Linked DNA regions of Homo sapiens. The protein of the gene in region 1 purifies or fractionates together with the protein of each later gene. This does not show direct contact. Each region holds a gene or a part of one and is shown in the gene's direction. Other genes may lie near its edges.

Region 1 (3,650 bases):
CTCTTGAGCTGTGTTCTCGAACATGCCTGGGAGGGCTGGCTACAATGGGCTTCTCGCCATGCAGCTCCTGGCTCCTTTCCCTCGATGGGGAAGGGTGAGCAGCCCACCATGGAGCACTGTGGAATGGCTGAGTCTGCACAGAGCGGGAGGGGAAGTGAGGTGCGCAGAGCCATGTGTAGGCGGCAGCTGTTCGATTGGTTTAAAAGACAGTTTTGCTCTGGGTAACTGCGCACACAAACCCCCACAGATGGCCGAGGGTTGCACTCCAGGTGGCTGTGTCTGCAGGGACAGGGATGGACATAGTCTGTGGGGCCCAGGCCTTATCTGAAAAGCATCCCCCATCCTCTCTGTATCAGCTCAGCAATTGAGGGCATAATTAAAAATGAAACAGCTATCCAGATGCTAGCACAGGATGTCTGCCTAAGTGGGCAAGCACTTGGCTACCCGGTCCCCTAGCTCAGCCTCAGGGCGACTCAGGCTCACCAGACAAGACTTGTTGCAGCCACGTTCTCTGTCCTTGTGACCACAGCCATCAGGGAAGCGACAGGGCTCCTGGTCTCCAGTGTTCTCCCCGAGTGCTAAGACCTTGGGGCCCTTGCAGTGCTTTCAGAGCTGGCCGGACTTCCCCGCAGGGTTTGCTCCCACCTTCCCCAGTGGCTGTCCCCTGGGCTCAGCTGCTTTTGTTCTTTATCTGCTCCAAACTCCTCTGACCAGGAGCACGCCTGCTGAGGTAACTGGGGATTTCTGCAAGTGCACTCCGCATTGGCCAGCCACTCCCGACTCAGGCTGCTGACCCTGGGCCTGGGTCTGGCCAGTCCAGTTGGGAGTGTCCCACTGACGGTGGGGTTGTCCGTCCTTCTCCCCCACAGGCCGGTCAGTACGGCGTGGCCCAGACTAGGAGGCGGGCCATCATCCTGGCCGCGGCCCCTGGAGAGAAGCTCCCTCTGTTCCCGGAGCCACTGCACGTGTTTGCTCCCCGGGCCTGCCAGCTGAGCGTGGTGGTGGATGACAAGAAGTTTGTGAGCAACATAACCAGGTAGGTGGCCCCCGTCGCTCCTCCACACACTGCCGAGCAGGCCTCAGTAGCTCATGGGGCCCGTGAGTACTCCCTGGTGAGGCTTGGGGAGGAGAGGATGGTACAGCATCTGCCCTGCCACACGGTGCTCTGCCACATGGCACTCTGCCACCTGTGGTCTCCAGTTCTGACCCTGCATCATCTGCTTCCCTAGTAGATAGCATGTGCAGAGCGGCCAGCCGCATGCTTGGCTGTGGTCATCCACAAAGCCCACGCCATAGCCCCATCCCCCCTTCCAGATGGCATCCAGGCACACTGCCACCCATGTGACCTCGGGCAGTGCTGTGATCTCGGGAGAAGGCCATCTGAGCAGGCAGGGGGTGGCACCTGTGATGAGGGGACAGCTGCTGCGTGCATCTCCAGAGGTGTTGACCTCCTCCTCTGTTGCAGGTTGAGCTCGGGTCCTTTCCGGACCATCACGGTGCGAGACACGATGTCCGACCTGCCGGAGGTGCGGAATGGAGCCTCGGCACTGGAGATCTCCTACAACGGGGAGCCTCAGTCCTGGTTCCAGAGGCAGCTCCGGGGCGCACAGTACCAGCCCATCCTCAGGGACCACATCTGTAAGGTAATGGCACCCTGACAGAGCGGCTCCTCCTCGAGGCCCAGCCCAGCAGCCTCGTGGGAACAGTCAGCCTGCCCAAGACTCAGGGGAGACATGGAATCTGATCCCAGGCTCCTCCTCCCGAGTCCTCAGCCTTTGTGTGACCCCTGGTCTCTCTTGCATGGTCATGGGAAGTGTCAGAGCTCCCGCAGTCCTGGACTTGGTCTGGAATGGTGTCAAGCCACTGCCCACCCACCACTGCCTTCCCCCTTGCTGCCTCTCCCCGCATGTTTTCCCAGGATGCCAAGACCAGCCCTTTCACCATCCCCTGGCACCACTCCCCTTCCCCCACCCTAAAGGCTCAGCTTAGATTCCCACGCTCTCCTACACCTGCGCTGCCTCAGGTCCCTGCCGTGGCCTCGAGCCAAGTGCGATATCCCTGACTGTCTCTTTCCCGATGGGCGTGAGCCCCAGGGGGCTTCCTGGTCACCATGGTGTTCCCAGCTCCCAGCCCACCATGGATGCTCGGATGCTGCTCACATGAGGTGACAGCTGGGCCCCCCACACTCTTTCAGGACATGAGTGCATTGGTGGCTGCCCGCATGCGGCACATCCCCTTGGCCCCAGGGTCAGACTGGCGCGATCTGCCCAACATCGAGGTGCGGCTCTCAGACGGCACCATGGCCAGGAAGCTGCGGTATACCCACCATGACAGGAAGAACGGCCGCAGCAGCTCTGGGGCCCTCCGTGGGGTCTGCTCCTGCGTGGAAGGTGGGTCCTGTAAGTTGTGGTTCCCGGTGGGCTGAGGGGAAGGAAGGCAGAGCCCTGGGCCTTTGGCCTGTGAACCTGGAGGCCAGGGCAGGGCACAGACACACCAAGCCTGGGTGTCCCAGAGAAGGTAGCTGCTGACCATGTTGAGTAGTAAAAGCAGGCTGGGTTCATGGCCCACACCTATAATCCCAGCACTTTGGGAAACCAAGGCGGGAGGATCACTTGAGCCTGGGAGGTTGAGGAGGCTACAGTGAGCTGTGATTGTGCCATTGCACTCCAGCCTGGGAGACAGAGTGAGACCCTGTCTCTAAAAAGAAAAAAAAAAAACAATAAATAAATAATAAAAGCAGGTCAGGCACGATGGCTCACCTCTGTAATCCCAGCACTTTGGGAGGCCAAGGCAGGCAGATCACTTGAGATCAGGAGCTCGAGATCAGCCTGCCCAACATGGTGAAACCCCATCTCTATTAAAACTACAAAAATTAGCCGGGCGTGGTGTCGCACGCCTATAATCCCAGCTATTTGGGAGGCTGAGGCAGGAGAATCGCTTGAACCCCATAGGCAGAGGTTGCAGTGAGCCAAGATCATGCCATTGCACTCCAGCCTGGGCAACAGAGCGAGACATATAATACTAATAATAAAAACAGTGCCCAGAGAACGAGGATTGTTGGCTGCTCCACCCCAGGGGGCCCCTTGCACAGGAGGTGCCATCTCTGCCTCCCAAAGCTCTAAGAGCCACTGTCCCAAGCCTATACCCCATCCCACAACTGCAGCCTCATCACTGTCCTGTCTTCCAGCCGGCAAAGCCTGCGACCCCGCAGCCAGGCAGTTCAACACCCTCATCCCCTGGTGCCTGCCCCACACCGGGAACCGGCACAACCACTGGGCTGGCCTCTATGGAAGGCTCGAGTGGGACGGCTTCTTCAGCACAACCGTCACCAACCCCGAGCCCATGGGCAAGCAGGTAGGTGGGGAGGGGGCATCCGAGGGCCTGGGTCAGGCCCTGTACTTGGCGGCCTAACTAGGTGGAAGTGTGGGTTTAGCCAAGTGGGGGACAGCACCCCAGGACCCCAGGCACCTGGCCTCTGCCTCCTGCCCCTCCACGTCCACGGGACAAGCTCATAGGCCAAGGCCATGGCCGTATGCTGTCACAGTGCCATTTCCCTCCCTGTCCCCGACGGTGACCCGGCCTGGGTGCTACTGCCCTCGCCCACCGCGCCTCTTTCCCCCAGGGCCGCGTGCTCCACCCAGAGCAGCACC
Region 2 (3,650 bases), about 20 Mb from region 1:
TGGGTCTAAAACTTTATGTAGAATTTTGGCAAACCATGCTATTGCCACCTAGGACATGCTTAAAAATAACATGCTGTGTTTTTGTTCTCACTCATAGGTGGGAATTGAACAATGAGAACACTTGGACACAGGGTGGGGAACACCACACACCGGGGTCTGTCATGGGGTGGGGGGAGGGGGGAAGGATAGCATTAGGAGATACACCTAATGTAAATGATGAGTTAATGGGTGCAGCACACCAACATGGCACATGTATACATATGTAACAAACCTGCACGTTGTGCACATGTACCCTAGAACTTAAAGTATAATAAAATAAATAAATAACATGCTGTGTTTTATTATTAGGCCAGAGAAATAGCTTTCAAAATAGTATGAAGATACCATTTGAGGCTATAAAATTATTGTGATTGTGACTATTTTAGATATAAGATTGTAATAAAAATTTTCAGATTAATTTCTAGAATAGATTCAAGGAAATTTTCAAAAAGTTGTTCTCAGTTTTATGAGTTACGTATAGTGAATGCATATGTGTTTTGAATATCACAGAGCCTTTGTTGATGTTGTGAATGGAGAATATGTCCCTCGCAAATCCATCCTGAAGTCTCGAAGTAGAGAGAATAGTGTGTGTAGCGACACTAGTGAAAGCAGTGCTGCTGAATTTGATGATAGGCGGGGAGTTTTGAGGAGTATCAGCTGCGAAGAAGCCACTTGCAGTGACACCAGTGAGAGCATTTTGGAAGAGGAACCACAAGAAAATCAAAAGAAACTTTTGCCCTTATCAGTAACACCTGAGGTGTGTGTGTGTATCTTTTAATTCTTTATTTCATATAGTATCTTTGACCAGTTTTAGCTATTTAATCTGAAAAGTCATAAGATTAAATTAATTCTAGGTTTTATACTTTCTTGGTACTAATTAATAAAAAATTAATAGTCACAAACAGTACAAATATTGTGATAATCAAATAGTTTATTTTTTGATAAACACATTACTTGTCTTAACGTTCTATTTCAGCAAAATGGGAAATTTAAAATGTCTTACTTGGCATTATGTATTACATTTGTAGCTAGGAAATTATTTCGCAGTTTATTTTAAATAAATTACCAGTAGGTCATTTTCTGATAGTGTAAGGAGCAGATTACATTATTCTCTTTTAAATACCTTGGCTAAGTTAAAGAAAAATAATGCATGCATAGCAGATAATTACCTAAAGTCTAATATTTTACCTTGTACCAGTGAAACTTAACTCTTGGGGGATTATGGAATTGTTTTATAATCTGATGAAAGCTGTAGACCCTGTCCATAGAAAAAATAGTGCACACTCAATACACTTTCACCCACCACACTTCTTACAGTTTTTGGTGGTGGTGCAGGGGAGGTTAGGAAATCCCCAAATAAGGATGTCTGTGAAATATAAGGCTATTGATTTCTTCATTCTTGTGTTTTGGTGCGTATTTGAAGTTTTCAATTTAAAAAGTATTTAGGAAGATTGGGGAACCCATGCCTGGATCAAACCAGTGTACACATTTGTATATACAATAAGATACATGCATATATATAACCTTATCTAAAAATTCCATTGCTTTTACTAAATGGTATTATACTCAGTGTATTAAATGGTAATTGGGGATGGAGATTGGTAGCATTTAGGGACAGTACATATGACTAGAATGTTTTCTTCCCCTCTTCTTAGTATAATGATCTTAGGTGACCTGGAAAGTATCTTACCTTATTTGATAGTCTTCCATACTGTTAGAAAACAGGTAATGGATGTTATCAGGTAATTGCTGATAAATGTTTGAAAATTAGTTTTTTGTAAGGACTTAGTGTATCATGGTACAGCTAGAGTGTGGAACCTATTTTTTATTTCACCCTTAGTAGCTTTGCATTTTGTATGGAAATGTTTAATAGTAGTTGCTATACATTTTTTAACATCAAAGAAATAGTTCATGATTATGGTAAGTACTTTGGAAGATATCCTTTTCAGTATCTTTTTAAATGCTAAAATACCTCTTTTTCAAAGGCATTTTAAATAGAAGAAGGAGAAGAAGGCTCTATGCTCATCGTGATAAAGTGGAGTTTTTAGGAAAGTAAGCTTTAAGCTGCTTTTACCAGTTGAACTCCAAAAATAATGTAGGAGAGAGATGGCTTTCTTTGTTTTTGTTTCAGTGGTGGGGCAAGGTAGAAGAAGGTGGCTTTTTAAATTATTTAGGTGTTACGTTGTTTTAACTAATTTTGAGCACTTGGTAGACAGAGGAGAACAAAATGTACATTAAAGTTCACCTGTCAAATTTTCATTTGTAGAGGGAAGGATGGAGGTTCTAAATACCAGCAATCTTAAAAAAAAAAAAAAAATTAACTCCTTGTGTCTTACCTATTTTTGTATAAAACGACATGTACAGATATTTCCAGCAATTTATGCACATTCTTTAATTCTGTTCCAGTTGAACATATAGTTGACCAGATTAAATGCAGCAAACATCCAGGTGAAATTGAGTCATTTCTTTTTTTGTGGAACTTCTGATTTCTGTCATTGAGTTAATTATATTAAAATTTTGAAACCTGTACTTATTCCTACTAGTATCAGCACTTTTATTTTTCAACTTCCACTGATCTTTTAAAATTGAGGCAATATGCAGTAAAATATTTAAATAATTGCATAAACACCACCAAAGAGATATCAGTTAGAAATGTCAGTACTGGTGAAACTAAGCTATTGGCTAGCAGGCAGCAAGGCCATCATAGGATAGCTCATTCATCAACTGATGTACAAAAGTCAGAGTTTGACACCCTAATAGCATTTTTATTTTAATACATTATTTTTCACAGCATGGGCTGGACATGAATGGAATGTATGAAAGTTTGAAGACCTTTTATTTATCCATTTCTTTTTTTTCCCAGATAAAATTTACATTTTACATTTTGTTTTCTTGCATGTATACTGTAAAAATTACTTCTGTTTGGTGGTGAAATTAAAACTTAATGGTGTTGGTTTCTCTGAACAATTAGTATTTTGGTGTAGTAGTGTTGTCTAGCCAAAAATCTCGTGAATTTACTTTTAATGAAAAGAATTGCCAAATGAGTGAATGGGAAGATTTTGTGGGTGTCTTATTTGCATTTTATTACCATAACCTGACTTTTGTTTTCTAGGCTTTTTCTGGAACTGTTATAGAAAAAGAATTTGTATCACCTTCCTTAACACCACCCCCAGCCATTGCTCATCCCGCACTACCCACTATTCCAGAACGAAAGGAAGTTCTGTTGGAAGCATCTGAAGAAACTGGAAAGAGGGTTTCAAAGTTTAAAGCTGCCAGATTGCAACAGAAAGACTAGGCCCTGTCTAGGAAATGGGAATTTACATCCTAAAACCTAGTTGTTCATTTGTTTAGAGTATCTATAGCAAAATAGGTTACATGTAGTTTGAAATAAGGTATCCTGAGTTACTTTGGCAACAAGTTCTTTTACCCTTACCCGTGGTATTTGAAAAAAATCAAGGTAACTGTCTGAATACTTTAATATCAGCTTGTTTTGTGAATTCTCTGAATACTGTCAACACTCTTATCTAAGTTTGCCTTTATGATGCAGTGGCAGCATTTTGAATTACTTTTCAAAGAATACTGTTCATATGCATTGTTTTTGTGTTTCAAAC
Region 3 (3,650 bases), on another chromosome or scaffold:
TGGTTTCAGGCCAACATAGCCGAGGTAGAGGTCTCCATCCCTGCCAAGCTGCACAACTCCCTCATTGGCACCAAGGGCCGTCTGATCCGCTCCATCATGGAGGAGTGCGGCGGGGTCCACATTCACTTTCCCGTGGAAGGTTCAGGAAGCGACACCGTTGTTATCAGGGGCCCTTCCTCGGATGTGGAGAAGGCCAAGAAGCAGCTCCTGCATCTGGCGGAGGAGAAGGTGAGCATGGGGAGGGAGCGTGACTCTTGGCAGGAAGCCTGGTCCTCAGTACAGTGTTCTCGCTTCTCACTGTGGAAACCCCTGAATGCCCTTCCTTTGTGGCGGGTCAGAAAACAGCTCTATAATGTACTGTTTATGCGTCTTTGTTTTTGCTGTTACTGGAGGGCCTTTCCAGGTCCAAACGCTCACATATGCAATATATAAAAGTTGGTCTTTGGCTTATTAGTTTTGGGGTGCTTTTGTTTTTTAAATATGATTTACAGTAAAATTGGCCATTCTTCAGGTATAGTTGAGTTTTAAGTAACATGCAGTCATGTGACCACAATCATCAAAATTCATTTTCCATCACCCCTAAAGATTGCCCATGGAATTGCTGTTGTCCTTGTGTCAAAACCCATCTGTGGGTATGTTTCCGGGCTCTTCTGGTGACACCAGGTTTATGGGAAGTCTGGAAATCAGTAGTGTGAGCCCTCTTAACTTTGGCTGTTCTACACCCCTTGCTGATCAGCCTGTCAATTTGTAGGAAAAAAGCACTTTCACGTTTTGATTGGGATTGTGTGAAATTTGAAGATGAGACTGGCGAGGATTGACAGCTCAGCAGTTTTGACTTTTGCAGGCATTTCTCCATTTTTTTTAGGTCTGTGATTCTTTATTGGTGTTTTATAATTTTTAGCACATTTTTATGTTCGACTTAACAGATCTAACTACTGTTACTCTTTTAGTGCTATTGTAAATGGCACTTTTTTTCCATTTCCAGTTGTTAGCACATGGAAGTGCCTGTGGTTTTTGTATGTTGACCTTCACGAGGCTGCTAAATAAAGCTCATGTATATTAGCGCCAGTCACTGTTTTGTGGATTTTTTTTTTTTTTTTTTTTTTTTTTTTTTTTTTTTTGAGACGGAGTCTTGCTCTGTCGCCCAGGCTGGAGTGTAGTGGCGCAATCTCGCCTCACTGCAAGCTCCGCCTCCTGGGTTCACGCCATTCTCCTGCCTCAGCCTCCCGAGTAGCTGGGACCACAGGCGCCCGACACCTCACCCAGCTAATTTTTTGTATTTTTAGTAGAGATGGGGTTTCACAGTGTTAGCTAGGATGGTCTCGATCTCCTGACCTCGTGATCCGCCCGCCTCGGCCTCCCAAAGTGCTGGGATTACAGGCGTGAGCCACTGCGCCCGGCCCACTGTTTTGTGGATCCTTATTTTATATGTCACAATCACGTGGTCTGTGGACAGTTACATTTCTCTCTAATCTGGAGCCTTGTATTTCTTGTCTTTTTTGTTGTTGTTATTAGATTGATGTTTTTGTCTTTGTGTTTAACCAGCCTTGCGTTTCTGGGGTAATCCCTGCTTGGTTTGGTAGGTTGTCTTTGGCCATATTGCTAGATTGCATTTGCCTAATTGATTGCCTAATGTTTGACTAATGCTGCTATTTGTGGATGTCTTTGAAAAGTAGCAGAGTCTCTAGGTGGTATTTGGTGAAACCTGCACTTAAAAGGTAGCAAAGTTGTTATTTAATATTTTTGTGCTAGCATGTTTTTCTTTGGTATTTTTGCTTGCGGGCCAGATCTTGGGTCCGGAGAAAGGCAAGAGCTCCCCGTGTGGACCTGAGTCCCGTGGAGCAGCGCCCTTCTCGGGGCCCCTGCGTGGGTCTGCCAGAAGCACTGGTGTCCACAAGCAGTGTCCGGGGCCTTTCCAGGACCCTCGTTTTCTTACTGCCACACAAGGGCGTCGCACTACACGAGGCCTCTGAGGACCGGTCTCTAACTGTAGCCTTGGTTGGCTTGTGTCCCTCTGAGCTTGAGCTTGAGCCTGGGGAGTGGCTGGTTTTGTGGAGGCTGATCTGTAGCACTCGTGGGAAGAAAGGGAGCCTGGCCCAGATTTGTGTGTGCTTGGTCTGGAAGCAGGTAGAAGAGTGGGAGCATGGTGCACACCTCTTGGGCAGCTTGCTTCCTGCTCTGCTGGGCACACCCCACGCTCCCCAGGACGTGCACTCCGCCAACATATCGTCCGGCGCGTTGCTCCCACCTCCCCCTGTGCAGATCAAAAATGGCTTGGAGAAGTTTGGTCAGTGCTTGTAAGTGGCAGGACCAGGGTTCTAAGCCTGTGTGTTCATCCCACCAGCATCTGGTTGTTGTGGAAGAGAAGTAGGTGTGCAGTCTGGGTATTCATCTGTTTATTCAGTGAGGTGTGCTAGCCCCATTTTGGGGGTATTGGTGCAACATCAGGACACTGGTGACAATGTAAGGGGAGCCCGAGCTTGCTGTCCTACAGACCCTCTTGTCTTCCTCACTGTGGTCCAGGCACGTGGTGTCAGGCTAACACAGTGGGATTGGTTTCTGCAGCAAACCAAGAGTTTCACTGTTGACATCCGCGCCAAGCCAGAATACCACAAATTCCTCATCGGCAAGGGGGGCGGCAAAATTCGCAAGGTGCGCGACAGCACTGGAGCACGTGTCATCTTCCCTGCGGCTGAGGACAAGGACCAGGACCTGATCACCATCATTGGAAAGGAGGACGCCGTCCGAGAGGCACAGAAGGAGCTGGAGGCCTTGATCCAAAACCTGGTAGGGAGCGGGCCTCGGCGGCCGACTCTGCTGGGGCCGTGATGGGGTGGCTTATCTTCCATCTCTTCTTAACACTGCAGGATAATGTGGTGGAAGACTCCATGCTGGTGGACCCCAAGCACCACCGCCACTTCGTCATCCGCAGAGGCCAGGTCTTGCGGGAGATTGCTGAAGAGTATGGCGGGGTGATGGTCAGCTTCCCACGCTCTGGCACACAGAGCGACAAAGTCACCCTCAAGGGCGCCAAGGACTGTGTGGAGGCAGCCAAGAAACGCATTCAGGAGATCATTGAGGACCTGGTAGGCACTTGGGTGCTCGGGGAGGGGTTCTCACCCCCCAGTGGCCACTCACCGAAGCCGTGTATGAGTGTTCGCTCCACCCTGTAGGGAGGTGACTCCCTCATACAGCCCTGGAAGGCTTCAGAAGGGGCTTTCTGGTGCTCGCTCTTCTTTCCTCAGCCTGTCTGGCCTCCTTCCTGATAGTTGGTGAGAATTCTGCCTGCGAGAAGCACTTAAAAAAAAAAAGAGAGAGAGAAGGAGAAGAGGAGAGGGGAGAGAGAGAGAGGAAAGAAAGCAAGAGAAAGAAAGAAAATGCATTCTGTATAAGGGATCAGGAAAAATGAAAATGCAGTCTAAGGGGTCAGCTCTCTTCTCCCCTCTGTGAAGGAAAGAAAATCGATTTGAGGGCATCCACGTGAATCCATGGGAAGTCATGAGAAGACGTGGTCTTTAGAAGCAGTCTTTAGAGAGTGTCCCCTCCAGGCCACTCCCCTGCCAGGGCCTTGGATTCCCTTTCCCTAATAATCAAGTCTGATGCCTCCTCATGGAGTCAGAGGCTACCCCAGGAGGTCCCACTCCTTTGGC

The links.
Region 2: the proteins of DNMT1 (region 1) and URI1 purify together in Homo sapiens (affinity purification with mass spectrometry, with the first as the bait; one large-scale study listed by BioGRID). This does not show direct contact.
Region 3: the proteins of DNMT1 (region 1) and HDLBP purify together in Homo sapiens (affinity purification with mass spectrometry; 2 studies listed by BioGRID). This does not show direct contact.

The regions. Positions count from the first base shown.
Region 1 is NC_000019.10:10,135,825-10,139,474, reverse strand, and holds part of DNMT1 (DNA (cytosine-5)-methyltransferase 1), read left to right. Parts: intron 1-869; coding exon 870-1,036; intron 1,037-1,465; coding exon 1,466-1,643; intron 1,644-2,194; coding exon 2,195-2,390; coding exon of another isoform or gene 2,391-2,399; intron 2,400-3,187; coding exon 3,188-3,354; intron 3,355-3,622; coding exon 3,623-3,650. UniProt on the Homo sapiens protein: Methylates CpG residues. Preferentially methylates hemimethylated DNA. Associates with DNA replication sites in S phase maintaining the methylation pattern in the newly synthesized strand, that is essential for epigenetic inheritance.
Region 2 is NC_000019.10:30,011,736-30,015,385, forward strand, and holds part of URI1 (unconventional prefoldin RPB5 interactor 1), read left to right. Parts: intron 1-549; coding exon 550-796; intron 797-3,151; coding exon 3,152-3,334; 3' UTR 3,335-3,650. UniProt on the Homo sapiens protein: Involved in gene transcription regulation. Acts as a transcriptional repressor in concert with the corepressor UXT to regulate androgen receptor (AR) transcription.
Region 3 is NC_000002.12:241,239,038-241,242,687, reverse strand, and holds part of HDLBP (vigilin), read left to right. Parts: intron 1-9; coding exon 10-228; intron 229-2,379; exon of another isoform or gene 2,380-2,565; coding exon 2,566-2,787; exon of another isoform or gene 2,788-2,867; coding exon 2,868-3,086; exon of another isoform or gene 3,087-3,186; coding exon of another isoform or gene 3,187-3,297; intron 3,298-3,650. UniProt on the Homo sapiens protein: Appears to play a role in cell sterol metabolism. It may function to protect cells from over-accumulation of cholesterol.